3 separate regions of the Homo sapiens genome follow, and regions 1 and 3 are each reported to be linked to region 2. The links are microRNA targets in miRTarBase. Many come from high-throughput screens and were not tested one by one. Region 2 holds a microRNA gene; each other region holds the end of a gene's coding sequence.

Evidence for each region. Region 2 holds the annotated microRNA hsa-miR-30c-2-3p (CUGGGAGAAGGCUGUUUACUCU, at 2,747-2,768, shown strand). A microRNA usually pairs through its seed, bases 2 to 8, with sites in the 3' UTR of a target mRNA and lowers its output. Matches are read on the target gene's strand: a 7mer-m8 pairs with bases 2 to 8, a 7mer-A1 pairs with bases 2 to 7 and ends in A, and an 8mer does both.
Region 1: miRTarBase lists AJAP1 as a target of hsa-miR-30c-2-3p. The part of its 3' UTR that is shown has no 7-base or 8-base seed match.
Region 3: miRTarBase lists SLC16A4 as a target of hsa-miR-30c-2-3p. Seed matches in the 3' UTR shown: 7mer-A1 at 1,255-1,261.

Annotation. Positions count from the first base shown.
Region 1 is chr1:4,773,925-4,780,924 of GRCh38, forward strand. It overlaps AJAP1 (adherens junctions associated protein 1), which reads left to right. Exons shown (of 6, transcript NM_018836.4): 5 at 503-634. The coding sequence ends at 575. Among named protein-coding and RNA genes, the nearest start is that of AJAP1, 120 kb to the left of the region's middle.
Region 2 is chr6:71,371,530-71,379,731 of GRCh38, reverse strand. It overlaps MIR30C2 (microRNA 30c-2), which reads left to right and starts at 2,701; the gene lies at 2,701-2,772.
Region 3 is chr1:110,357,778-110,364,777 of GRCh38, reverse strand. SLC16A4 (solute carrier family 16 member 4) reads left to right here. Exons shown (of 9, transcript NM_004696.3): 9 at 885-1,921. The coding sequence ends at 1,012. Among named protein-coding and RNA genes, the nearest start is that of RBM15, 22 kb to the right of the region's middle.

The DNA of each region.
Region 1 (7,000 bases), not on the chromosome of region 2:
GAACTAGTTCTTGCCTTTTGGCCCAAGGTCATGCTCTGTTGGGTTTCATTGGCCTTGGGAAATGGTAGCTTAGTCTCAAAGGTGACAAAATATGGGCGAGACATTTTGGGAGCCAGGTTCTATCCTTTCTGTCATGTGCAATAAAGTGGGTCAAATCTGCCATCAGAGGCAGAGACCCCAGGCTCTGGGCTAATCCTGCAAATTCAAAAACGAAAATGTGGAGACGGCACAGCCTTCCGGCCTGTGCAGCAAAGTGCTCGTGTGCCCAGATCCCTCAGTCTGTGTCTTCCAAAGCCTCCCAGGGTAGAAAGCATTCGTGTGTGAGGACTTCTCCCAGCCACAGGGAATGTGGGGGGTGGTCCCTTCCTGGCAAGGCCAGGAGTCCACATTAGTGCTTCCTTTCTCAAGAAGCCAGTCCCCACCACAGGCCTGCCCCGGCTTGCCTATCATGTGTCATGGTCAAGTACCAGCACGCCAAAGCCCATTTTTCTGTTCACCGCAGACCCTCCTCTTCTGATCGGCATCTTATTCCTGTGGCCTTCGTGTCTGAGAAATGGTTTGAAATCTCCTGCTGACTGGCCGAAGTCTTTTTTACCTCCTGGGGGCAGGGCAGACGCCGTGTGTCTGTTTCACGGTAGGTACCTCTCTTTGGACATTCCTGTTTTCGTTCCCTTTCCTCCCCTCCCCACTGCCCTCCCCTGCACTCTTTGGGATCACTGGGAGCTCTTTTAGACATGGCGGGTGGATTTCCAATGGCATCACTTCTCTGAACATGAGCCGGCGGGGGGGGCTGGGCTTTTGACCTTGATGTTGGATTTGTTAGAAGTGCCCTCCCCGTCCCAGGGGAGGATAGTAACAGACATTCATGCACCCTGATTCCACGTCCTCACTATTCTTATCAGTGCCACTCCTTCCCTCAGGAAGGCCACCACATGCGTGGCCTACGTGGCAGGGAAAGTCATTCCCTAAAACAAGCGACAATTACAGCTCTCATTTCCCACAACAGGAGGAGATTAGGACAGCGGCTAGGGAGGCAGGAATCGCACCTCCATCACATGTCTTTACATCGGGGGAGGGCGCAAGGCAGAATTAAAATACAATTTTGAAATATAAAAATAAGAGATAAGAAAGAAAATGATAAAGAAAGAAAGGGAAGAGTTGAGACATCTACTAATTTGAAGCCAGGAACCGGCACCAAAACAGGATGAATTTTCCACGCTCTGCTGGATGGGAACATTTGGTTTGCTTTTAGTGATATTAACTTTAATGCTAACGTTAAATTGCCTCCTTCTGTGCTGAGTCTTCAGAGCACTCGGGCTGCTGAGGGGAGAGAGCATTGCGCCCTCATGGCTGCACATCCCATGCATTCTATAAGCACAGCCCATGGGTGTGACCTGAGGTTTTCGTGTTGTTTTCATGGTTCTTTTCGACGCTGGGCTTTCTACGCATCCTCATCTTGCTTCCTTCCAAAGGTGACCTAAGATCCCTTCCATGAGTAGGGAGCCGTATTTCTAGGATAGAATACCAATATTTGAAAATATTTTTTTCTTACTTTTTGCCCACCATCTGATATGAGGGACAGAATGGACAAAGTCCTCAGGGGCCCGCGGACAGGGAAGGTCTGGAGGACTCAGCTGGCTGCACCTTGCTGGGGGCGGGGAACCAGCTGCAGTCAGAGAGGGGAGTGAATCGGTCAGTTCCTCATCCTGGCACTAATGAACTGCATGTTTGCTCCAAATCAAATCTCCAGCCCTCACTCCCTACCCCGAAGCCAACATGTTCTGCCAACTGGCAAAGAAACGTAATTAGATTAGAATATGGGAACCGAGCTGCCCTGCAAGGGCCTTTGCTGCAGCAGGTAAGAGGCGGGTTGCCCCCACCATTCAGTGGGGGGATGTGCAGCCTAGAGCATCCATCAGAAGCCAGTGCCTTTGTCTGCCTCACCGCAGCTCCCCTCATGAAGGGAGCCCCTACTGGAGTGCCAACCAAGCTAGCCGCAGGGAGCTGGCTTGCTAGCAGTGTAGTCCGCGACCCGCCTGGTAAAGCCTCTGTAGGGACTGGGTCCTGATGGTTGCCAGCATCTCTGTTATGATTTTTAAAATTTGTTAATGCACAATTCATTGACCTGGGAGATGCAAGGCCTTAGAGTCGAAGACCCTCACTCCCTTCCGCCAAGAGCCACAGACCCACAGAACTGGAGAGGTCAACTCGGGGGGACAGCCCCGTAATACGGATGTTTGCACGGCAGCTCGTGGAACACTTTTTACTTGCCCAGTCCTCCCAGCAATCTCATTTACAAGTGGGGAAACCGAGGCAGTGGGAGGTTAAATGACTTGGCCGAGGTCAGCTCCCTAGGGGAGAGGGGACAGCTTTCTAATGTTTGCACGGCAGCTCATGGAACACTTTTTACCTGCCCAGTCCTCCCAGCAATTCCTTTTACAAGTGGGGAAACTGAGGCAGTGGGAGGTTAAATGACTTGGCCGAGGTCAGCCAGGTTGTTAGTGGTGGGGCTGGATCACCCGATGGCTGCCTGGCTCCGGGACATCCCCTGCCTACTCCACAGGCCTGAGCCCAGGGATCCTTCTTTTCCATTAGAACAGGAGCCCGCAGCACTGACTTTAAAAAAAATAAAAAGATAAAATAGGGCAAAAAAAAGTGTTTTATTTACTCATCTGCCCCAGAAAACCTTCGTGTCTCATCAGCCTGGTCCTCCCCTTCCAGCAGCATGGGGCACTGAAGACCCCCCAGAAATACTGTTGGTGGGCTAGCCCTGTGCTGCAGCCCCAGGCAAAGGCAAGAGACATGGGCGCCCCCAGATGGGCCCCAGGTGGACCCCACTTCCCAACTGTGCCTGAGGAGCTGTTTCAGGACCACCGGCATTTACACAAGGAAACATCTCTGTGTCTAAAGAGCTGACCCCCTCCCTGTGGCTCTCAGGTAGGTCGTCCGCAGAGTTCAGAAGAGCCCGTGAGGCTTACTGAAGGCAGCTGCGCTCAGCCTGGGAATCTGCCGACACGAAGCCACGGCCCACTCCTGGTGGCCTCCTGAAGTAGCTGTGGACCAGGAGGGCTATGCACACAGCCTCGTTAGTCCTTGATAAATGCTTATAAGATTCTGTTGCCGATTGCGGGACAGACCGTTTACCACTCACTAGGATGAAAGCGTTGGGATTCTAAGTATCCCCTGAATCTTGCAATTAATGCCTGGACATGAGCGTCGGGTGCAGAATAGCCAGAAACATCTCTCAGATTTGCTGGGGTACTTATTGTCCCTAAATAAATAGCAATTAATACTAAAACATTTAATTAAGGTTTAAGAGCCAGTGGAGCTCTTTCTCTCTCACATAGCTGGGAAGCCTCTCCAAATGCATTTTTAATGACGATGCAGCCGTTTGTTACCACACCATTGTCTTTCTTCTCAGTCTAATCCGTGTGCACATTTGGGACCCAAAGTCAGCCAAGTTCGTTTTCTTGCAGGCGGTTGTCCGGAATGCCAGTGGCTCCTGGGCAGATGTGCACCCCAGATTCAGCCTTTGTGATAGATTCCAACACGTTCTGGCCTCAGACCACCTTTGTGGTGGGGCCAGACTGCTCTGGGCAAAGTGAAGCTGGCCTTTATGCTCCAAGGAAGGGGGCCTCGAGAGCAGGCCTGCATTGGCTCTCGGACTAATTCGCGATCATCTTTCATACAGCAGGTACACTTCAGCAAACCTCGTTAATGTTGATCTCTTTCCCTTTGCCAAGGCCGCTTCGTTCTGAACGGAGCCTGCAAAGTCATAAAAGCTCTTGAATCCGAAGCAAGTGAGAAATAAATCATGCACTATTATTATTTTCAAAAACACATTGATCACTAATAAAAAATAAGAAGTGTACCTGTGCCTTCCCACTTTGTTCTTCCAAAATATACATTAATAGAATATCAAACTTTTGTTATTCAAAGGAGCCTGTTTTTCAAAGCAACATCCATACCTTTCTGGAAGCTGTGCTTGCTGAGCTGAGAACAGTACCACGAAAACTTTGAGAGAAAGTAGCCACTTCAGATTGTCAAGAAATTCTGCTCTGCCCCGGGGACACCTGGCGGTAGCCTGTTTGCTCTTTATTTATGTATTTATTTTATGTATGTATGTATGTATTTATTTATTTTTTGCAAAAGCAGACAGTGGTCATTACACCCAGTGCGCCACTGCGTAGCATGCAGCCCAGTGGGGCCAGGCCAGCCGAGAATCTCCTTCCAGGCAGCAGAGGGCAGAATTTATCCCAGATCCCGATCTGGAAGATGGCTTTGCAAGATACATACAGCTTCCCTTTTTGCCCAGGGAATCTCAGGTGGACATTCACCTTCAGCCACGTTATTTTCCAGCCATGGGGTCCAGGCCCCACCTTATCTGTCTTTCCCAGCTGGCCTGGGATCCTCAGTCCTTCTCTGGGCTTAGTGCCAAGATGAGAGGCTCACGTGCTAAGTGTGGCGCAGAAAAACACAAGCAGCTGAAGTTTGAGCAACAGAGTTTTGGCAGAGCATGGACAACATGAGAGCCTCCTCCTGGGCCAGGGGCTGTGACCACACCTTGGTCTTGCAGGAAACCTCTCCACCCTCTACAAAGCCAGCATGGCTCTGGAAATGGTCATTCAAGGTGCAGGATTGGCGCCATCTCTCTCTCTCTCTCTCTCTCTCTCTCTCTCTCTCTCTCTCTTCTCTCTGTCTCTCCCCCTCTCCCTCTCTCTCTCTTTTCCATCCTGAGACACAGAGTAGAGAGAGATGCCTGTAGTCTTGGAAGAGACTCCCTTCCCTGCATAGCCGGGGATGTCTGGCATAGGCTGCCACCCACTCGTTGATCCTCCACGTCGTGTCTGTGGCTCCCTGCATCAGCATCTACCTGCAGGCAGTCCCCAGAGGTTGTTTCATGCCATTAGGGACGGGTCTTAGCGACTGAGGACAAAACTGCTTCACACCTCTGCCGCGTCTCTGAGCCTCATCCGGTGTTTTGATTCCCTACTCCGGGCCAGGCACAGAACTGGAACCTGCATGAACCAGTGGTGAATGGGCAGGAGACCCCCGTTCTCAGGAGGCTGTGCTGCCAGCAGGGGATGCCTTGCACATCTGCCCAGATAAAGCTCGATGCAGATGGTCCCATACCGAAGATGTCACCGAGCAAGTGCTGCAGGAGACAGAAGTAAAATAGGGGATGTGTGTAGGAAGGAATGGGGCATCCAAGAGGCCCTCCCCAGGGAGGTGTTCTTTCCAGCCAAAACCTGAAGGATTTGAGGCTTGAGATTTGCAACTTGAAATCAGGGAAGCTGGAACGTAGAGAGGAAGAAGAAGAGGAAGAGTGAGGTGGAAAGGTGGCCAGGACCCAGTGCAGAAGGATCTGATGAGCCAGCATGGGAAGTGCAGGAGGCTTTTTTTCTTTTTCTTTTTCTTTTTTTTTTTTTGAGACAGAGTCTCGCTCTGTCGCCCAGGCTGGAGTGCAGTGGCTCGATCTCAGCTCGCTGTAAGCTCCGCCTCCACCTTCACACGGGAGACTTTCACATGGGAAAGTGGCAGGATAAAGTCTACATGGGAACACCTCCGGAGCACAGCCAGACAGACGCAATGGTTGGAAGCTGCTCCTCCGGCCTTTATTCTCCTGTTTAAGGTCAGGATTAAGGATTGGAAAGCAGCCGGGGCCACAGTTCAGGCAGGAAACTATTCTTATTAAGGTGGCAGCCATATGACTTACGGTCCAACCCTGAACACATTCCAGAGCAAAAGGTTGGCCTTGTGAGTAATCAATGATCAGGGAACACAGGGACAGCAGCTTACAACCGGTGACAGTCCCAGGACACCGGGACCCAGTGTAGGGTCTCGAAGCCTAGCTTCTGGTGGCCCGAGGATTTTTATCTCCCTTTTAAGAAAAATTGTAATTGTAGTAAATATATGTAACATAAAATTTACCGTTTTAGGCCAGGCACGGTGGCTCACACCTGTAATCCCAGCACTTTGGGAGGCTGAGGCCGGCGGATCACCTGAAGTCAGGAGTTTGAGACCAGTCTGACCAACATGGCGAAACCCCATCTCTACTAAAAATACAAAAATTAGACGGGTGTGTGGTGTGCGCCTATAATCCCAGCCACCAGGGAGGCTGAGGCAGGAGAATCGCTTGAACCCAGGAGGCGGAGGTTGCAGTGAGCTGAGATTGTGCCACTGCACTCCAGCCTGGGTGACAGTCTCAAAAAAAAAAAAAAAAAAAAAAAAAATTACCATGTAACCATTTATGCGTGTCTAGTTCAATGGCATGAGTGCCTTTACCGTCCTGTGCAGGCATCTTCACAAGCCAGCTCTTCACCTCCTTCCGTCACCCCGTATTAAAACTCCGCACCCACTCAACACTCACTCCCCGTCTCCCCCCATCCCCTGGCCCCCAATTCTACTCTTCGTCTCTGTGGATTTGGTAGCTCTGGTACTTCCTGTAAGTAGAATCATACAGCATTCGTCTCTACATTTTTTAACTTTCAAAAAAATTACCAAGATGGACATATAAGAGGGATATTTCTCTCTGTGTTGTAATAATTACTTCATTTTTTAAGCCCCTCTTCCCCAAATCCGGGGAATGTGGAAGAGGTGGGCAGGGGTGGGGCACAGCTGGAGTAAGGCTACCAAGAGTGATCTGGCGCTAACCCAAAGGCACGTCCCCTTTCTTTTTTTTTTCTTTTTTCTTTTCTTTCTTTCTTTCTTTTTTTTTTTTTTGTGGGACACAGCCTCACTCTGTTGCCCAGGCTGGAGTGTAGTGGTGCCATCTCGGCTCACTGCAACCTCTGCCTCCCGGGTTCAAGTAATTCTCATGCCTCAACCTCCCAGGTAGCTGGGATTACAGGTGTGCGCCCCCATGCCTAATTTTTGTATTTTCACTAGAGATGGGGTTTCACCATGTTGGCCAGGATGTCTCCTTTCTTTACATGCAGTGAACCCTGTGCCCACAGCAGCTGGTCTTCCCACAGTAGCTGAGCGGACACTCCACTGTAGC
Region 2 (8,202 bases):
TATTTAATAAGGTGTGGTTCTTTCCATGTAGAACATTTTAAGCTCTTACATAATTATTCAGTATTGATACCCACATTTTATGACCATTTTCTTTCATTCTTGTCTATTTTTAAACTGTTTACATAGATTTCTTCTCTGCATTTACTGTGTATCCTGGTTTTTCTTCACTTGAAATCCATCATGAAAATAAAATTTTAAAATAAGGCTGCCTTCATAAAAGGTTAACTTTCCAGGAGTTAATGCCATCATTTAAGGAGAGATTGCTTTCTCTTCTTAGCTATGAGTTCCTTAGAAAAGTAAAACAGCCTAACCTTGAATTTTGGGGGAATAAAAACAAAGTTTTAGAAACTGGTAAATATTTTTTATTTAGAGATTTTTAAAACCTGAATAATCATCTTAACATTGTTAACCCATTGTCAGGTGGTAGATGGCATCATTCATTCATTCATTCATTCATTCATCAAACCTTCACTGAGAACCTCCTTTAGTACCAGACAAACCCTGGATACATGTTGTGAATTTCTTCTGATGAAATGAAGTTAAGTTAAACGAAACATGGTGTTTCTTCCCTAGTAGAGAGATGGATAGGTAAACAAATAATTGTAATAAAGTATCAGTTCTGTGATCTAGGCATATGCAATTATGTGACCTAGGCACAGTATAATGGTGGTAAAAGGAAAAATGAACAATTCCTCCTCAGGTTGGGGGAGGGGTGTGGGTGTTAGGGATGACGCTGACCAGAGAGGATTCACAAGAGAGAATACTTGATTTGGGATTTGAAGACTGTATGGGCACTTGCCAGGTAGAAGAGTAAGCAGAAGTGCAGAAACAGAATAAAGAACAGGTTTGTGTGATTTAGTTCTTCAAGTGTTTTCACCCTTTCAGTTGTGACAGAATTCAGTATTCAATGAGCATGGGGTCATAACTTTGCAGCCCAGCCCATTCAAGTTATCATTCTTAGGGCTCTTTCCTTCTCCACTTCTCTTCCTATTCTTTCCCTCCTGCATGAAAGGCCTTATGAAGCCCAAGCCAGGCTTGTGAATTACCCATGACTTCTCCATCTCCACAGTGCCTCTCCCCTCAGCTACTCACTCACTGAATTCTGCTGTTCTTCTTGTCTTTATAATTTCTCATATTCATTTTCTCTGTGTTCTTACTGCCTCTTCCCTAATTAAGGCTCCCATGCTCTCCCTTACACTACTGCAGTGATTCTTTTCCTGTTTTCCTTACCTGCCACCTTAAAGCTAGAGTAAATTCTCTAAAGTACTGACATGGTCATCCCACTTGCCTGCTTACTATCTTTCACTCGTACCCATCGTTTGGAGATAATGCCCAAACCCTTTAACCTGGCACATAAGGACTCCCATCTTTCCCTTGTGTCTCTCCCCTTACCCTTCACCCACATGCATCTTTGACTCCACCTCTGCTGAATTCTTAAAGGCCTCAGCATACATTACCTTTGTCTTTCTTTCTCTATTGGATGACTGTTCTTTCTGGTACACTTTAAGCTACACTATCTTCTTCACTGCCCACCCCTTCCAAATTCCCATTAGCACCATCTTCACCTAGCTAATTTTATTCAGGCTTCAAGACTCAGCCTGGCTATTAGCCAACTCAGAAGTGTCTTTTGACCCATCATAACACTTATAGTAATGGTGTATGTGTCTGTCTTGCAAATTAAGCTGTGTCCTTCTCGAAGGTAGGGATGATACCCTTCATTTCTCATCACCTAGAATTTAAAACATTGCTGATATATGGCAGGCAGTCACAATTGTTTGTTGAATGAATGAATGAATGAATGAAATGAGTAAGATCCTGTAACAGTTTGGAATTATATGCCACCTGGGTTTACAGTGTAGTCTCTTATCAGGTAGGTTTGTTCTGAGATGTATAGTAATGATGACTTTCTTCTTCGCCCAAGTATTTTGTGTACCTTAGACCAGTTTAGCAAATGAAGTCCAAGAACTATTTGAATAAGTCATTCTTAGAAAATAACTTTAGGAAGCAACTGACTCCATTCATGTGTATGCCTCTAATTGTAGGTTCACTTCTGTCCGAATATGAATTTTTAAAATAATTTTAGCATTATATTAGCAATTTGCAATATACCATTTTTATGCATGTAAAGTTGTATTCTAACATATTTACTTTTTGCTCATTTGATTAAATTTATTACTGTGTATCCCATCATTAAGGTAACTAATTTTCAGTAATTAAACTGTTGGTCTTCTGTTTAGCCATTATTCTCAGTTCTGTGCAGGAGTGAGCTGAAACAAAGTTGTATAGCCCAGAGAGTGAGAAGCTGCATTTCATGTCTCCCAACAGTCAGAAAGGGATTATGTACTGTTTAAGGAAGGAGTTTGGCGAATATTTTGAAACCCTTTTGGGAAAGCATAGAATATTGAAAATCCAAAATTAACCAAATCCGTGAGTGTGCAAGCTCAAAGCTAGAGACCTTAGGAATATCTTAGGATGTGCAAAACAGGAAGAAAACAAGAACTGAGCAGGCAGCACTAAGTAAGTGTCATATAGCCTCCCCACCCACCCTTCCAACCCTACTCCTAAAAGAGCCATAATTTAGTCCCAAGTATACTTTTCTGATCTTTTCCTGTGACATATTATGGTATCTTCAAATGGTACTGGGTTTCCTGAGGCTTGTGCTGCTGACTGCCAACCCCATCCTAGAGAGCACTGAGCGACAGATACTGTAAACATCCTACACTCTCAGCTGTGGAAAGTAAGAAAGCTGGGAGAAGGCTGTTTACTCTTTCTGCCTTGGAAGTCAACTAAAGAGAAATGGATTTTGAATATTTCTATGTCTTAGAATTGATCCTATCCCGTGTTTGTTTCTGAGGTCAACTGTAAAAGGAAAAAAGGTGAATTGACTAAGTCATCCAAAGAAATGTAAGATAATCTATAATATCAGTTATATTTGAACTGTTTCACTTAGTTTAAAAAGAAAAAAAAGATTACCAAATACCCAAGTGACAAAAGTTCTGGTTAACTTGTATGAGGCTACATTTTGTGGGTTGCTGCAGTCTGATCTGTAAAAGCAACACATTACCTATACGTTAAGCTAAACATTTCTCCTTTAACCTGAGAGCATTCCACACTGAAGTCTGCTTTTCTTGAAGCAAAAATTCTAGTGTCCTTGGACTTGCTATTTTATCAGGGATCAAAGGCACCTTGGAGCCCCATGCTTTAGGAATTGTAATGGCAAACAATAAGGTCTGCTCTTTAAAGCTAGAATATAGTTACACATTTCAGGAAAAAATAGAATTGTTGTTGGAGGACGGGAGAGGAAGGAAAATGTAGAGGTAAGGGATGGGATGCAAGAAGTTAATTTTAAGAAAAATCTACAGAACGAACTCATAAGTTCAGCCTTAACCAGAAAAACTCTTTCATGTAAATCGTTTAAATCAAAGGTCTATTAAACATCTAATCTAGAATGTAACTTACCTGAAATTTGAGTCCATTGCTGATTTATTTAAAATTATTATGAAATAAGCCTTCTTGTTAAAGAGAATATTTAAATAAGGCATATTTTTATATAACAAGCCCTTAAGAAGTTAAATAATTAACTTAATGCTTCTATTAAAAATTAAACAAATCTGAACAAAATTACTCTAGTCTTGGCATATCAGCATATATCAGTCATTTAAACTAAAAGACACTCTACTACTTTAGAAGTATTAGAGGAGCTTTTAATTTTACCTCCGCACTGACTGTAGAGCCTAATACAATAGGAGTAATTGTTTCATATGAGTTTATAGAAAAAAAGTTTAAATACAATGACTTTAGCATGTGATTTCAGGGAAGTATTTGAACAGGCTGGCCTTGAAGCAGTGGTAGACACTGTTGAAGTGCCAGCTTGATTGAGTCATTTACCTTTTTAGGTTTGCCTACAGGCTTAAGAAAACCCTCTTTGAAACAATGCTCTACAGTCTTCTCAAAGAAATAATTGTTATAGATGTTTGAAATTTTGCTTTCTGCTAGGAGAGGCAGATAATATGGGTAAGGGGAAAAGCAACTCTAAGCAGCAGAGAATGATGCATATGCTTTGCCATAGCATTTTATTATTCTGCCTAAATTAAAAGGGGGGACATTCAAATATTCCAGATCTAAATTTATGGTTAACTTTTAGTCATGAATGTAGGTGTTTCAAAGCTTATTGAAATACATGCTGAAATTCATTCATCATTCAAGAATTATTTATTGAGCATCTACTATGTGAACTTCTAGGCACAGGGGATATAGCAGAGAACAGAAACAAAGTCCTTTTTCTCATGGAACTTACAAGAAAATATATAATGTGTCAAAATATAAACATCTTGTGTATCTATGTAAAATATCTAATTTTATTCAATCTTTTTATTGCCTTGTCCTCCAAAACCAAGTGTATTTAAATATTCCAGAATATTTCTTTCATTGACTATGGAAAACTTTGATATAAAGCTATATAATTTTGGTTTTTGTTTAGTATTATTCTTCTAGATATGTTCTAGTTGTTAACTAGCCTGTTTTGTGACATGAGTAAGTAGGATTATTAAGCATGCTTGAGAAGTTATATATATATATTTATATATTTATATATTTATATATATTTATATATATTTATATATATATTTATATATATTTTTATATATATTTATATATATTTATATATATATTTATATATATTTATATATATTTATATATATATTTATATATATTTACATATATTTATATATTTACATATATTTATATATATTTATATATATTTATATATGTTTATATATATTTATATATGTATTTATATATATAAATATATATATGAGGGGGCTTCAAAATATTCATGGAAACATTGAGTTAAAAGCTACAAATAAAAAATATAAATTTTATTTCTCAGAGTAAGCTCCATCAGGGTCAAGACACTTTTGTAAGCAATGATACCAGACATTTATTCCATCCCTAAAGAACAGGGTCTTGGGAATTTCACCACATCAGTGCCATCTTTTTAACATTATTAACTGAAGAAAAATGAGTGCTCTGACAGATTTTTTTAAGATTAGGAAACAAAAGTCCAAATGAGCCAAATCAGGACAGTAAGGTGGATGCCTAGTGACATTCCACTGAAACTCTGGCAAAATTGCCCTTGTTTGATGAGAAGAATGAGCAGAAGCATTGTCATGGTGGAGAGGGAGTCTGGTATAGCTTTCCTGGACATTTTTCTGCTAAACCTTTGGCTAGCTTTCCCCAAACACTCTCATAATAAGTAGATGTTATCATTCTTTGGCCTTTCAGAAAGTTAACAAGCAAAAAGACTTAAGCATCCCAAAAAACTGTTGCCATGACCTTAGCTCTTGACTGCTTGGCTTTTCTTTGACTGCACCACATCCCCTTCTTGGTAGCCATTACTTTGATTGTGCTTTGTCTTCAGGATCATACCAGTAAAGCTGTGTTTCATCTCCTATCACAATCCTTCAAAGAAAAGCTTTAAGACCTTGATCTCACTTGTGTAAAATTTCCACTGAAAGCTCTGCTCTTGTCTGCAGCTCATCTGAGTGCAATGATTTTGGCACCTATAGAGTGGAAAGTTTGCTCAACTTTAATTTTGCAGTCAGAATTGTGTAAGCTGAACCAGTTGGAATGTCTGTGGCGTTGGCTATGGTTTGTACTGTTAATCATCAGTACTCTTCAATTAGGGCACAAACAAGATTTTTTTTTTCCTTGCAAATTGATGTAGTTTGTCTTCTATAGTGGGCTTCATCTTCAACATCATCTCATCTTTTCTTAAAATAAATTATTCATTTGTAAACTGCCAATTTCTTTGGGGCATTGCCCCCACTAACATTTTGTAAAGCAGCAATGATTTCCTGATTTTCCCACCCAAACTTCCCCATAAATTTGATGTTCTTGCTTTAATTTTAGCAGAATTGACATTGCTCTGATAAGGGCTCTTTTCAAACTGATTTCTTATCCTTTTTTGTGCCTCAAAATAGATCCTGTTCAGACATGTTACAAATTAGTACAAGTTTATTTTGATATAAGAAAAAATTGAAATCCATGTATAGTTTTTCCATAATATGTATTTTCCATGAACTTTTTGAAATTCTTCGTATTTGCTGAGATGATATTGCTAAGGAGTTATATAATATAAAAAGTTACATGTTTGTGTGTTTATATATGTTGCATATGTTATATATATTCAAATTATCATTGTATCTGATACAAGTAAACATATTAATTTGAACCTAACTCTATTCAAGTTTGTAACTCTCTAAATACTGGTAAGGATGATTTATCTTTATGTTATGTTTATATATTGGTTGCTAAGCAAACGCCATAAAGACTTTAAAAGAACAGATTACTTTTAAATGTAAACATCCATTTATATTTGAAAAAAGACATAAGCTTTAATTGACAAGCTTTGTAAGCCTAATTGTGTCATTAAAAACTCAGTAGAAATAAAGGTATCATATGTACTTTATTCATTTATGAATTTATAGTCTCCTTGTCTCTATTTGTTCGAATTAGTAATTCTTTATAATACCTAGTGGTGATATATTTCTATAAACTACTCTGGCTTAGATTTCTATAAATGTAAATATAATTCTGCTCTCTCTCTCTTTTTTTTTTTTTTTTTGAGACAGAGTCACGCTCTTGTCGCCCAGGCTGGAGTGCGATGGCGTGATCTCACCTCACTGCAACCTCCCCCTCCCGGCTTCAAGCAATTCTTCCGCCTCAGCCTCCCAAATAGCTGGGACTACAGGCGCCCGCCACCATGCCCGGCTAATTTTGGTATTTTTAGTAGAGACGGGGTTTCACCATGTTGGCCAGGCTGGTCTCAAACTCCTGACCTCAGATGATCCACCTGCCTTGGCCTCCCAAACTGCTGGGATTACAGCCATGAGCCACTGCTCCCGGCCTGCTGTCATCATTTTAAAATAGCAGAAAGCAGGTTATTAATTACAAAATTGGGTTTTAGGTGTTATTTTGGTTAACTTTATCATTGGAAAACTATATGGTTAATATATAAAAATCAGTTGTATATCTATATATCAGCAACAAACAAATAAAAATGAAAATTTTTAAAAGATACTTCTTATAATAACATTAAAAACTATCAAATGCCCAAGGGGAAATCTAACAGACGATGCATAAGACCTCCGCACTGGAAACTAAATATTATTGAGATAAATTATAGAAGACCTGAATAAATGGAGAGATAAACCATGTTCATAGAGAACAGGACTCAGTATTGTTAAGTGGCTAATTCTCCCCAAGTTGATCTGTAGATTCAGTACAGTCCCAATCAAAATGTAAGCAGGTGTATGTTTGGAAATTAATAAACTGATTCTAAAATTTAGAATTCAAACAGCAAAAGCTAGACAAGATAATCTTGAAAAAAAGATGGAGAAATTATGCTTCCACATATCAAGATCTGTTACAAAGCCATAGTAATGATGAGAGTGTGATATTGGCACAATGGCAGACAGATACACAACAGATAAATGATAAATAGAATAGACACACTATTATGATAAAGATGATACTGAAGTACACTGGAGACAGGATGGTCTATGGATCCTAATACGAAAGGTAAAACAAGGCTTCTAGGAAGTAATATATAGAATATCCTTATGACCTTGGAGTGGGCAAAATTCCCTTAAAAAACTCCCAACACAACACCAACCAGAAAGAGAAAAAACTGGTAATTTGGATTATAATACCAAGAACTTCTGTTCATCAAAAGACAACATTAAGAAAATGAAAAGGCAAAATATACCAGAGGAGGTATTAGCAACACATATAACAAACAACTTATATCCAGTATATATAAAGAATTCCTATAAATTAATTAGAAAACACAAGCAACCCAGTAGAAAAATGAGCAAAGATTTGAACAGATAATTCACCAGAGAGGATATGTAGATGATCAATTAACATAAAAAGTTGCTCAACCTTATTAGTCATCAAATAAGTGCAAATGAAATCACAGCTCAATGGCAAGACACAACTACTAGAATGGGTAAAATTAAAAAGACAAAAAAATCTGGTATTGGCAAGGAGGTGGAGTAACACTGCAGATGAAAGCATAAGTTGGTACAGCCACTTTAGAGAACTTCTTAGTGGTCTCTACTTACGCTGAACAGATCCATATCCTGTGACCCAGTTGCTGTTACCTACCTCACAGAAATTTGCACAGTGTTCTTCAGAAGA
Region 3 (7,000 bases), not on the chromosome of region 2:
GCACTTTGGGAGGCCGAGGTAGGCGGATCACTGGAGGTCAGGAGTTCAAGACCACCCTGGCCAACATGGCGAAACTCCGTCTCTACTAAAAACACAAAAATTAGCCGGGTGTGGTGGCGGGCACCTGTAATCCCAGCTACTTGGGAGGCTGAGGCAGGAGAACTGCTTGAACCCAGGAGGTGGAGGTTGCAGTAAGCAAAGCAGAGATCGTGCCACTACACCACTCCAACCTGGGTGACAGAGCAAGCCTCTGTCTCAAAAAAAAAAAAAAAAAAAAAGCATTTAGATTTCAGGGGGGAACTTGTCATTGTTTAACCCACGTGATCAAGCAGTCAGTTCCTTCTCATATCTTCTGATAGCCTCCTGCACCTTCCCTTCATAGCACTTATCACATATCATTTATGTGGTTGGTACCTATCTCCCCACTAAAGTTCTGTGAGGGCAAGGACCGTATCTGTTTTGGCTCACTAGTGTATCCTCAACACCTAGCAATATTAACAGGAATATAGTAAGTACTCAAGTCTTTGTTTAGTAAAGGAAAAAAAAGAAAACTGATTATTATCACTTCTTTTTTTCTCTGGAAAACAATAATTTATGATTATTTTCTTCATAATAGCGGCCTTCTAATAAAATTCATGGTAAAATAAAACGGTATGTGTTCCTAATTTTCTCCAACTTCCACTGTAAGATTGGAGATGGTGTAAGTCCCTAACTCAGGTGGAGCTGATTCAACTTCATCAGTGAAAAATAGGGCAGCTAAGAAGCTTCACTAAGTTCAAATGGGTCACAATACAGGAGGCTCCTTGCTTTGAGGAGCTATTCATGGCTGAGAGTTACTAATGGCAAAATTTCCTTCCCTAACAGAAATCATTCCTTCCTTCCAGGCTGGTTATATGATTATACCCAGACATACAATGGCTCTTTCTACTTCTCTGGCATATGCTATCTCCTCTCTTCAGTTTCCTTTTTTTTTGTACCATTGGCCGAAAGATGGAAAAACAGTCTGACCTGAAAGAAAGAAGACTGCAATCAAGTGAGAGCTAAACAAAAGAAAACCTAAACTAATGTCATTGGAAACAAAAGCTTGAAAGAAACACATCGCATCTACATTTGTAACATGAGAAGGAAAACAATTTTTTTTTTTTTTTTTTTGAGACGGAGTCTCGCTCTTTCGCCCAGGCTGGAGTGCAGTGGCGCAATCTCGGCTCACTGTAATCTCCGCCTCCTGGGTTCAAGGGATTCTCCTGCCTCAGCCTCCCAAGTAGCTGGGACTACAGGCACACGCCACCACACCCAGCTAATTTTTTGTATTTTTAGTAGAGGCGGGGTTTCACCATGTTAGCCAGGATGGTCTCCATCTCCTGACCTCGTGATCCGCCCGCCTTGTCCTCCAAAGTGCTGGGATTACAGGCATGAGCCACTGGGCGCGGCCAGATAAGTTTTTAAGGTTCCTTCTTGCTTTAGCATTCTGAGAAATGTCTAATTGGTAGTAAGACAAGAGTAATAGCAACCTGTATTGTTAGTATTTAACCAAATAGGCTAAAATTTTAATCAGGTACCTTATGTATTAAATAGAAATCGGAATGTACCATAATAAATCCAAACTCTCAATTACGCCATGGTAATTCAGTCACTAAAATATGTAAAGATAGAAAATTTTTTAATTTAAAGAAGTGTGAAACATAGCCATTGATTGATCAGAATTCTGGAATCTGAATATTAAAACCTTACTTAGTGACTGGAATGGTATATGCTCCCTCCAAAAGTTTATCTTTGTTTATTGATTAAAGGTAATCCTTACTTTCTTTGTATTACTTAGGTTCTTAATTAAAGGTAATCCTTACTTTCTTTGTATTACTTAGGTTCTTAAATTTCTATGATAAACATGTATTGCTAAATAATAAAAAGTATATAAAAATTGCTTTAAAAACTTCTTTATTTCAAGATCATCTGAACAGCAATTTTGCCCATCAAAGCGTTATTTTTCTGCTACATCTAATTAACAAAATATTCACACTAAATATTGAAACGTCTCTTTACAAGATTTACATGAAAGTTGAATAGGTGGTTTTAATGGGAAATATGTTTAAATTAAAAGATGTTTCTTATACCACCAACCTCCCTTAGCATCTCCTTCTGAATGCTTTTTTTTTTTTTTTTTTGAGACAGGGTCTCACTCTGTCGCCCAGGCTGGAGTGCAGTGGTATGATCTCAGCTCACTGCAAACTCCGCCTCCAGAGTTCAAGCTATTCTCCTGCCTCAGCCTCCCAAGCAGCTGGGATCACCGGCATCGGCCACCATGCCCAGCCAATTTTTGTTATTTTTAATAGAGACAGGGTTTTACCATCTTGGCCAGACTGGTCTCAAACTCCTGACCTCAAGTGATCCACCCGCCTCGGCCTCCCAAAATGGTGGGATTACAGGCGTGAGCCTCCATGCCTGGTCCAAAATGCTTCTTAAACTATTACCATCATCGTTATTCCACTCTTCCATTCCTCTCTGCTTTAAAATGTCTATTAACAACTTACAGAGAAAAACTCTAGAAGACTGGTTTTAGCTCCATACCCTGTCACTGCCTATGTATGCCTTCTCTACCAGGCACCATTTCACTTTTCACTATCTGACTCACTCAAAGGCTACCTCCTTTGGAAAAATCTTCCCCAGCATTGTCATTCTCATCTGGAATCCTATCTAACTTTTAACAGAGTACTACATGAACTCACATGTCAATCCTTTCCATTAGTCTGCAAGATCAACAAGATGAATGGGGTTTCATTCATCTTTGTATTCTCCAAGGCCTAGCATAAGCTTTGGAACCAAATTAATCTCGGTTCAAATCTCAGTTATGTTAAAAAACAGTAGTTGATCCTATTTAAATATGGTTTTTATGGCTTTCTGACTAAAGCAAAAGAAAAAAGAAAACTGGTTTTCTGACTTAAAAAAAAAGAAATATCATTTTTACATTTAGATGTGGATGTCTAATATTTTTACATTTTACATGTAAAAAAAATGAAAAAAAAAACCACCCCTTACACATACAAACAGCAAAAATAGTTAACTAATAATAAATATCAGCTCTGCCACTTGTTACCATATGCCCTCATGAAAGTTACTTAAAATTAACTTATCTGAGACCCAATTTCCTGCTCTGTAAAATGAAAATACCACCAACCCACCTCACAGATATACTGTGAGGACTAAACCCATGAAAATATACTTGTGCCGGGCATGGTTGCTCACACCTTCAATCCTAGCACTTTGAGAGCTGAGGCGGGTGGATCACTTGAGGTCAGGAGTTCAAGACCAGCCTAGCCAACATGGTGAAACTCTGTCTCTACTAAAAATACAAAAATTAGCTGGGCACAGTGGCGCACGCCTGTAGTCCCAGCTACTTAGGAGGCTGAGGCAGGAGAATCGCTTGAACCCGGGAGGTGGAGGTGGCAGTGAGATCATGCCACTGCACTCCAGCCTGGGCAACAGAGCAAGACTCCGTCTCAAAAAAAAAAAAAAAAAAAAAAAAGAAAAAGAAAATATACTTATACCAGGCAAAATGCCCTTCATATATAGTAGCTGCTAATGTCCATTCTGCTTTCATGTCAAAACAAAAAATAAAAGAAATCAATGATTTTATGAACCACTTTCATTAATTCCTTCTTCTCTTTAGAGTAGCAATTATTTTTAAAAGGGACTTCAACTACCTAGAGCAACCTGATCCTTCCTCCTAGCTAAGCAAGCTGTACATTTTAAGTGGGACCAACTAAAGAACTCCAAATTGAATTCTTAGGTTTTATGAATCTCATGCAACAGAGAAGTTCTTTATCCTACTCAATAGTAATAGGCCCTCTAAACCTGGGTGGTGTGAATTAAGAAAGCCTGAATCCCAAGACTACAGAAAGCTAACGACTTCTATAACTAACGCGTTCATCATATTAACAATTAACTTATGATGTTCCTGTTCATTTACTGCTATGTTGTCATTTTTGTGGACAATAAGATGCCATATAAAACATTTCTAGGAATCCATAATGCAGGAATATCATCCCAGCTATATATGGAGTTTCAAGAAAAGCATAATAGTTGCTGATTTTTTCTTCCCCCTCAAGAGATTCCATAAAACAAAGAGGAAACAAATATTACACAACTTACATATGAGTAAGTGCGCTTGGGGCAGTAGGGTGGTGAATAACTTCACTTCAACATCTAATAATACACCAGTTACTGAGGTAGACACATACCTTTTTTAAAAAAATAATTTTCTTTCAAAAAATTTTTATTTGAGACCAGGTCTCGCTCTGTTACCCAGGCTGGTGTGCAGTGGCACAATCACAGATCACTGCAGCCTCTACTTCCTGGGCTCCAGTGATCCTCCCACCTCAGCCTCCCAAGTAGCTGGGACCTCAGATGTGCACCATGCCTGGCAAAGTTTTGTATTTTTGGTAGAGACGGGGTTTTGCCATGTTGCCCAGGCTGGTCTAGAACTCCTAGGCTCAAGTGAATCTCCCGTGTCAGCCTCCCAAAGTGCTGGGAATACAGGTGTGAGCCACCGCACCCAGCTGACAAATATCCTATTTAGTCTTCATGATAACCTTCAGAAGCAGATAGAGATACCATACTATGATGCCCATTCTACAAATGAAGAAACTGAAGGTCAAATAAATTATTATTTTTTAAAATAATTCAGTTTTATTTGAGATGGAGTTTCACTCTTGTCACCCAGGCTAGAGTGCAATGACATGATCTGGGCTCACTGCAACCTCCACCTCCCGGGTTCAAGCAATTTTCATGCCTCAGCCTCCCAAGTAGCTGGGATTACAGACGCCCGCCACCAGGCCCAGCTAATTGTTGTACTTTTAGTAGAGATGTGGTTTTGCCATGTTGGCCAGGCTGGTCTTGAACTCCTGACCTCAGGTGATTTGCCCACCTGGGCCTCTCCAAATGCTGGGATTACAGGCATGAGCCACCGTGCCCAGCCTGAAGGTCAAAGAAATTAAATACCCAGTGAGTAGTGGAGTAATAATTCAAACACAATCTAACACAAAACCCTACTCTTTCTCCTTTACATTACTCTGGCTTCTTGGCAGTATCAACAGATTATGAAGCTGATTTAATTGAAAGCAGTTATAATAAAAATCTAACTCAAATTGGCCTAAAATTTTAATGTCTGTATTGAAACAAAAAGGAGAATGTGGGCCAGGTGGCTCACACCTGTAATCCTGGCACTTTGGGAGGCTGCGGTGGGAGGATCACTTGAGTGATCAGGAGTTCAAGACCAGCCTGGGCAACACAGTGAGCCCCATCTCTACAAAAAATTGTTTAAAATTAGCTGGACAGGGTGGCACACGCCTGTAGTCAAGCTACTCGGGGGGCTGAGGCAGGAAGATCACTTGAGCCCAGGTGGTGGAGGCTGCCGTGAGCTATGATCGTGCCACTGCACTCCAGCCTGGACGACAGAGCAAGACTCCATCTCAAAAAAAAAAAAAAAAAAAAAAAAAAAAAGAATGCAAATATGCAAAGTACCTAAGAACCACCCCCCATCCTCCACCTCCGTCAAAATTAAAACCACAAAATACATCTGCTACAATGCAATAATAATGTAGTTGTTAAGATAATTAACTTTCTTAGGTCTCCCAATACTCAGTGAACCTGATTAAAGAGAAAATAATGCCTACGTACAGGGCCACTTATAATTCCTTAATACGTTATTATTAATAGTTGGAGTGTTTACAAATTATAAGCCTTAAAATACACACACATATCTAGTAGAGCTATTGTAATTTGAACATAAAAGTTCAGTATACTTCAGTATACTTTCTTCTCTGCTACTTCTTGGGTTATGTTTAAAACTGTTAGGATATTTCCATCATTATAAAAGAAGGAATTTTCCATATATGTCATTGTAAAATACTATATCTGACACTAAAACTCTACCTTATGGTACTGTTAACTATTTGGAGTTCTTTCCCATCTATTACCTCATTATCATCACGTTAATTCTGTGACAAAGTATGGATAAGTATTATTATTATTTCTATTTTATATATAAGGAACAAAGGCAATTAAGAACAAGTTATTTGCTTAAAGCTAGCCCTTAACAAAGCCAATTTTAAAACCTAATTACTGGTGCTGATTAATTAGCTCATGGCCCCTGGCTTTTCTTCTTTAATGATTCTCTAGGAGTTTAACTTTATTAAAAGCAATTATACTTATATGGACTGAAATGATACTTTTGTGATTTTTTTCAAATAATTGAGGTATGTGTTATGTCCTGTTTGCAAAATATGTTTAGTAAATACATTTGTCTAACTGTAAAATCAGCTTTTTCCATGTGAGGAAAAAAATCATATACTATTATTTTAATTGTTTTTAAGAGAGACATAGTGCAAAACTTGGACGGTGGTTTCTCTGAAGACCTCATATAAAACCAAAGCCCAATACTTTTTATTGAGACAGGGTTTCACTCATGTTGCCTGGGCTCTAGCGCAGTGGCGCAATATCAGCTCAGTGCAACCTGTCTCCCAGGCTCGAGCAATTCTCCTGCCCCATACTCCCTCAGCCTCCAGAGTAGCTGGGACTACAGGTGCACACCACCACACCTGGCTAATTTTTGTATTTTTAGTAGAGACGGAGTTTCGCCACATCGCCCAGGCTGGTCTTTAACTCGAGTTCAAGTGATCCTCGATTCAGGTTCCCAAAGTGCTGGGATTACAGGCATGAGCCACCACACCTGGCCCAAAGCCCAATACTTTTTAAAAGCCTTGAGTGTTTCTCTTAAGCCAGAATCACCTTGTATGAGGCTTTATATCTATATATTTGCCTCATGTGGCTACTCATTTGCCACAAATATCTACTCAATTGTTTCACATTTGTCATCTATGGTCTTAACATATACACAAACAAAAAATAACTAAAGTGCTTGAAAGCAACTTTTAAAATCCATTTAAAATTCTTCATGTTTTATTTCTGTGAGAATTAGACTAGCATGACTTAGGATCAGAGACAA